Linked DNA regions of Homo sapiens. Changing the gene in region 2 together with the main gene of any one other region gives a genetic interaction. Each region holds a gene or a part of one and is shown on either strand. Other genes may lie near its edges.

What was found. Genes that interact genetically often act in the same process or in processes that back each other up.
Region 1: changes in MAP3K10 (region 2) and PRKCZ together harm fitness more than expected from each alone (negative genetic interaction), as found in Homo sapiens cells (one large-scale study listed by BioGRID).

What each region holds. Positions count from the first base shown.
Region 1 is NC_000001.11:2,179,411-2,182,652, reverse strand, and holds part of PRKCZ (protein kinase C zeta type), read right to left. Parts: intron 2,340-3,242; coding exon of another isoform or gene 2,127-2,339; exon of another isoform or gene 1-2,126. UniProt on the Homo sapiens protein: Calcium- and diacylglycerol-independent serine/threonine-protein kinase that functions in phosphatidylinositol 3-kinase (PI3K) pathway and mitogen-activated protein (MAP) kinase cascade, and is involved in NF-kappa-B activation, mitogenic signaling, cell proliferation, cell polarity, inflammatory response and maintenance of long-term potentiation (LTP).
Region 2 is NC_000019.10:40,201,426-40,204,925, forward strand, and holds part of MAP3K10 (mitogen-activated protein kinase kinase kinase 10), read left to right. Parts: intron 1-3,059; coding exon 3,060-3,208; coding exon of another isoform or gene 3,209-3,232; intron 3,233-3,500. UniProt on the Homo sapiens protein: Activates the JUN N-terminal pathway.

The sequences.
Region 1 (3,242 bases), on a different chromosome or scaffold from region 2:
GGATGGGGCCGGGTGGGTGCAGCTGGTGAAAAGAAATGCAGCCCCCCAGCCCCTGCAGACCAAGCCGAACAGCCCAGCTCGCGGGTGGATCACAGGGCACCCAGCAGCCGCCTTCCCTCCGGAAGAGCCAAGAAGGCTTCCAAGACCAGAAATGCCCCCAGTGTGGCTGTGCCTGTCCCCGGTGCCCCGCCAGCTGGGGGGCAGCATACCCAAACAGATGCACCCTGCCCATGATGGCACCCCAGGGACCCCCATCCTCAGGACCCTCCAGTCGTTCAAGCTGGAATTGGCAGGTTTCTGCCTGTATAGGCATCGGCTTCAGAGTCTCAGGTGCTGCTTGGCAGGAAAATGCAGGGCAGGAGGGGCTGGGCCTCAGCTCGAGGCTCCCAGGTGCAGCCCCCCACTCCACTGCAGGGCCCAGGGGGGCCAAGAACAGCCACAACAACAACAAAAGCCAAACTGGGAACGGAATCGTGGAAAAAACCCTCATAGGCTTTTGGGAACTTACAAAGAAATGCCCACATCCATTCTACTAACATGGCATCTACTAACGTGGCATCTACTAGGATGCCACAAAACAGACAAATCCTTCCACGTAAGGCTGGACACGTGTCAGGGCGGTGTCTCAAAGCTGGGCCACAGGCAGCATCCACGGCCAGGCCACTGGGTGGAGGAGACGGTGCTGGGGAGGAGCCGGAGGGAGGGGCCGGGGCTGTTCCCTTAGGCAGAACGGCTCACCTGTGGTGTGCGCACAGCAGGATTGTGGGGACACAAGATGCCCCCTTCATTCATCAGTTACTTGTATTCTTTGTATGAAACACCTGCCGATAAAATGTGAAAAAGGGGCATTTCCTAAAGTACTTTCCCTACCTTAGTCCTGTGCTGCTTTACAAGGGTTTAATAAGCAGCAGGGGTGGGAACAGAGCAGGACCCAGCTGGAGCTGGCCCAGGGTCCTCCAGCCCCTGGCCCAGCCCGTTCTCTGCTCCGAGGGCTCAAGATTGCCTCAGTTTCCCTGACAGCATCCCCAGGGGCCAGCGTTACCTCCTCCTCTTGCTCAAAAGCCTTCAGTGCCCATCTCTGCAGCTGGCACGTGGGCTCCAGGTCGGGACCCATGGTGCCTGACACCTTTTCCCACCGCCGCCCCCTGCGCCCAACCCATGGACGTCCTGGCCTCTCAGAGCAGTGCGTTTGAATGCACGCTGGCCCCAGGTCGGACGCTGTGGCAGTAACAGGTGTTGCCCCTGTGGCTGCAACCACAGCAGTGACCTGAGATACAACAGGGGGCCCGTTCCGTGTCAATGGGGCTGGGGGCCCAAGGGCTCTAGTTCTGAAGGGACATCTGAGAAATAGCCTGGGGGAGGTGAGGGCTGGAGCCTGGGGAGGGCACAGCTGTGCAAAGGCCCCATAGTGGGTGTGTGCCTTGTGCGCTGGGGGCCACAGAGGGGCCCCATGAGACCCGAGTGAAGGGGCTGAGGGGGAGGAGGCTTTTGGACACAGGACGACCCTGCTGTCCGTAGGGCCAGGCAGGATGCTGGTGGCTTGGTGGAGGTGGCGGGGGTGGGGTGGGGAGAAGCAGCAGGGCTGGGGGGCTGGGCTAGGCCCCGCATGGCAGAGCATGGTCAGGCACAGAATGGACGAGCCCCACGTGCTGGGCAGGGCCTGGAGGCGTCCAAGGGGACAGCACGCCAGGGTCCACTTTGGCCATACTAGCCGGCCACATGGAAACATCCTGGAGCCAGTTCTTGGCAATGATGAGAGGAGGTCCCTGAGACCACCCTGCACTGTTGGGGTGATGACGGTGAGCCCTGCCACCGGATGCAGGGCTGGGCCCAGGAGGTAGTGCCCTGGGGGCAGCATGGGACTCCCAGGCTCCTGGTGCCCAAACCACAGGAAACGCCCAGAGAGCCCTGGGGTGGCAGCACAGCAGCGGTCATCTGAGCATCCCAGTCATCTGTGCGTTTGAGTCATCTGTGGATCTGAGTCGTCCGTGCATCCATGTCATCTGGGTGTCCGTGCATCTGAGTCGTCTGGGGATCTGAGTCATCCGTGCGTCCACGTCGTCCGTGCGTCCAGGTCATCTGTGCGTCCACGTCGTCCATGCATCCACGTCGTCCGTGCGTCCACGTCATCTGTGCGTCCACGTCATCTGTGCGTCCGCGTCGTCTGTGCGTCCGCGTCGTCTGGGTGTCCGTGCATCTGAGTCATCTGTGGATGAGTCATCCGTGTGTCTACGTCGTCCGTGCATCCACATCGTCTGTGCGTCCATGTCGTCTGTGCGTCCACATCGTCTGGGTGTCCACGTCGTCCGGGCGTCTGTGCATCTGAGTTGTCTGTGCATCTGCAGTCAGTCCCCATGCATTTTCATAAACAGGTTGGCCTTAAAGCCCCACCGAGGATCCACCCACTCAAGGCTCCAGCTAGAGGCCCCACGCCTGCCCTGTGCCACGCAGCATGGGGTGGACAGAGGGGTTCGCGGGTGGCCAGGCCAGGGCACTGCTGCCTTCTACACACTCCAGGCTTGAGAATTTTACGGCCACACAGGTTGGCCCTGGGTAGTGGAGCTGGCACCAGCCCAGCTGTGGGGCTTGTCCCTCTCCATGAGGTCACAGCTGTGATCCCCACTTCTGACGGCCTCCACTGCTCCACGTCTCCCATAACCGCCTCCCTCCTGCTCCCACCCGCTGCCCAGACCCAGCCATCTCTCTGTGGGCCTCTTGTCACCTGCCCTCCTCTGCGTCTTTCCGTTTTCCCCTCCCTGCCGCCGGCTCCTTGCGCAGCACACAACGTGGCTGGGTTCCTCCCACCGAGCTCCCAGGAACGTGCCTGTCGCACGTGGGAAAGTCCTGAGGCTCCCACCACACGAAGCATTAGAGTCCTTGCTCCTCCCTGGGGCCTCCCACCAGCAGCCCTGGGCCCGGGGTGGGAGGAGCAAACCACTCCTGGCCCTGAGGCAGAATCTCCCCAGCAACATGGGCAGCAAATGACTCTCAAGAGAATCGGCTGTCACCACGCAAACGTTTCCATCCAGGGGGAGATGAGTTAGCGCAGCACCGCCCGGCCATGTGGGACACGTGGGGTTGGGCAGCAGGTGGTGGCTCAGCTGTTAACTCACCACCACCTTTCACATCAGTGGGGAGCTGGGACCATGCTGGGAAATCCATCGCTTCAAATCTCAGACTCCTGATAGTCACTAGCACAGATCACGTGATCCACAAATACTCAGGCTTTGCAGTGTGCCAAG
Region 2 (3,500 bases):
CTCATGATCTGCCCACCTGGGCCTCCTAAAGTGCTGGGATTACAGGCGTCAGCCACCGCACCCAGCCTTTTTTTTTTTTTTTTTTTTAACAGGGTCTTGCTCTGTCACCCAGGCTGGAGTGCAGTGATGCCGTCACAAATCATTGCAGCCTCAACCTCCTGGGCTCAAGTGATCCTCCCACCTCAGCCTCTCTAGTAGCTGGGACTACAGGCATGCCACCACACCAGGCTAATTTTTTGTAGAGACGAGGTCTCACTTTGTTTCCTACGCTGGTCTCGATCTCTTGGGCTCAAGAGGTCCTCTTGTCTTGGCCTCCCAAAGTGCTGACATTACAGGCGTGAGCCACTGTGCCTAGCTCCACACGCCAGCTTTTTTTTTTTTTTTTTTTTTAATTTTAAGTTCTGGGATACATGTGCAGAACGTGCAGGGTTTGTTACATAGGTATACATGTGCCATGGTAGTTTGCTGCACCCATCAACCCATCATCTAGGTTTGAAGCCCCGCGTGTGTCAGGTATTTGCCTAATGCTCTCCCTCCCCTTGTCCCCCACCCCCCAGGCTCCAGGTTTTATGTCTACATTCCAACCACAAGAAGGGGAAAAAAGGAAAATGGCACCCCTTCTTTTTATTTTTTGAGACGTAGTCTCACTCTGTCTTCCAGGCTGGAGTTCAGTGGCACGATCTCAGCTCACTGCAAGCTCCGCCTCCTGGGTTCACGCCATTCTCCTGCCTCAGCCTCCCGAGTAGCTGGGACTACAGGCGCCCGCCACCACGCCTGACTAATTTTTTGTATTTTTAGTAGAGACGGGGTTTCACCGTGCTAGCCAGGATGGTCTCAATCTCCTGACCTTGTGATCCGCCCGCCTCGGCCTCCCAAAGTGCTGGGATTACAGGCGTGAGCCACCGCGCCCGGCCTCATTTTCTTACCCATGTTGTTTTTGTTCCTGCGCTCCTGTGCCTGTCTGCTGTGCTGAGCTGCAGATGTGTCCTGCCGCGGCTTCGCAGGACAGGGATAAGTTGAGACAGGAAGCAAGAAGCCTTGCCTGTCAGGCTGCCCTTGGCATGACTAGAGTGTATGTGGGGATTTTCACCTCTTATTTTGGGGTCCATTCTGTTCCTTCTTTGAACAATAGTCTTTACAGGATAGGGTGTTTGGGGACAGATTTCATCTTATTTAAGATATAAATAATATAAAATTAACCCACTATAAATTTATTTTTCATTTAAAAAAATTTTTAAAAGACAGGCTCTCACTCTCCCACGCAGGCTAGAATGTGGTGGTATAGTCATAGCTCACTGCAGCCTTGAACTCTTGGGCTCAAGCCATCATCCCACCTCACACTCTTTCCCGGCCGGGCACCCCTTCTTTTTGAGGATACTTCCTGGAAGCTAGTTGCCTACTACACCCCCTCCTACATCCCATGTACCAGAACTGTGGTCATGTGGCATGCTTAGCTGCAAAGGAGAATGGAAAATTCATGCAGGCAGCATGTGGCCAGCTCAATTCACCAGCACTGTCACTGAAGAATGGGAGGCTGTCAGCTGCATATGGGGGCAGTGATTGTGTCTATCTCTTCCCAATGTCTAAAATGGTGCTTGGCACACAGTAGGCACTTAATAAGTATACGTTGAATGGGCCGGGCGCAGTGGCTCATGCCTGTAATCCCAGCACTTTGGGAGGCTGAGGCAGGCGGAACCTGAGGTCAGGAGTTGGAGACCAGCCTGGCCAACATGGTGAAACCCCATCTCTACTAAAAATACACAAATTAGCTGGGATGGTGGTGCACATCTGTAATCCCAGCTACTTGGGAGGCTGAGGCACAAGAATCACTTGAACCCAAGAGGCGGAGGTTGCAGGGAGCCGAGATCATGCCACTGCACTCCAGCCTGGGTGACAGAGACTTTGTCTCAAAAAAAAAAAAGGATATGTTGAATGAATGCATGAGTGGATAGTGGGGAGACCAGGGATCTACTCCAGGATAAACACCACACAGAATGGCCATCAGGATCTGGGAGGATGTAGAGTTTGCAGAGGAAGATAGCCTTGCAGGGACCACAGCACAGTGACGCACGCTCTGGTACCATGGAGCCACTGAGAGCACTGTCGTGGGCAGCAGGCAGACCTGAGTCCAAGTGTGGCTCCACCACTCACTAGCTGTGTGACCTTGGGCAAGCCCCTTACCTCTCTGAGCGTGTACCTGCTCATCAGCTAAAGCAGGGGTCATACCAAATCCTTCTGCCTTACAGGGCTGTTGTGAGGATTACCGAGTGCCTAGCACAGTGCCTGGCCTGCAGTAAGTGCTTTATAAATGTTAAATAATGTTAACTGGTTTTTAGAGGTAAGTGCTGAGTGTTTTGGGGAAACGTAGAGGAGGGGCCTCTAACCTAGCTTTGGAGGCTGTGGAATCAAGGAAGGCTTCCTGACAGAGGGGGCAACCTGTGTTGAGACTTGAGGGACAAATAGTTACACAAGGGAAGAGTGTTCTCCACAAAGGGAACAGCATGTGTGAAGGCCAGAGGTTAGAAAGCACAGGGCCTGCTCAGTATTCAGTGTGGCTGCAAGATGAAGTTGGGGTTAGAATGGGCTGAGAGTGTTTGGAAGTGAGGCTGCAGGGGTCATCAAAGGCCAGGGCCAAGAAGGATGGATTTAGGTGGGATGCAGTGGCTCATGCCTGTAATCCCAGCACTTTGGGAAGCCCAGGCAGGAGGATCACTTGAGCCCAGGAGTTTGAGACCAGCCTGGGCAACATAGTGAGACCTCCATCTCTACAAAAATAAAAATAAGAAAGATGGATTTGGCCAGTAGGAACACGGGACCTGAAGATTTTCAGGCAGGGGAGAGGGAAGACAGGCCGAGCAAAGGAGAGACATCAGAGAGCCAAACCCACCCCATCTATTGGAGAACAAGGCCATGGAGGTCAAAGCAAGTTCTTGTGACCTCATTGGCCGGGGGTGGCTGTTGGGGTGAGGGCAGCCCTGCATGGGACCAAGGGCAGGGCTGGGTATAGGTGAGGATTGGGGTGGGCTGCGACATCACCCCTCCCTCTCCCCTGCCTGCAGCTTCGGGGTGCTGCTGTGGGAGCTGCTGACGGGGGAGGTCCCCTACCGTGAGATCGACGCCTTGGCCGTGGCGTATGGCGTGGCTATGAATAAGCTGACGCTGCCCATTCCCTCCACGTGCCCCGAGCCCTTTGCCCGCCTCCTGGAGGGTGAGCCGGGGCCCCGTGACGAGGGTAGGCTCAGCTTGGAGTGGCAGGGACCTGTGGGCCCAGACCTTTCCCCTTCACACCTATCCATACCAGTGGGCCCAGGAGTGAGGAAGAAGGGGCTGGAACCCACTGGACTCTAAACAGCCTCCCCATGGTTGGCTCCATCCCCCACATCCCAGCCCTTGTTTGGGCCAGGCCCAGAGCTCTCAGGACAACCTGTTAGGATTCCTTGGCCCTGGGATTCCACCTTGATCCTGATTCCACTACCAGCCCCTCCTCGGGGTGCAGGTCC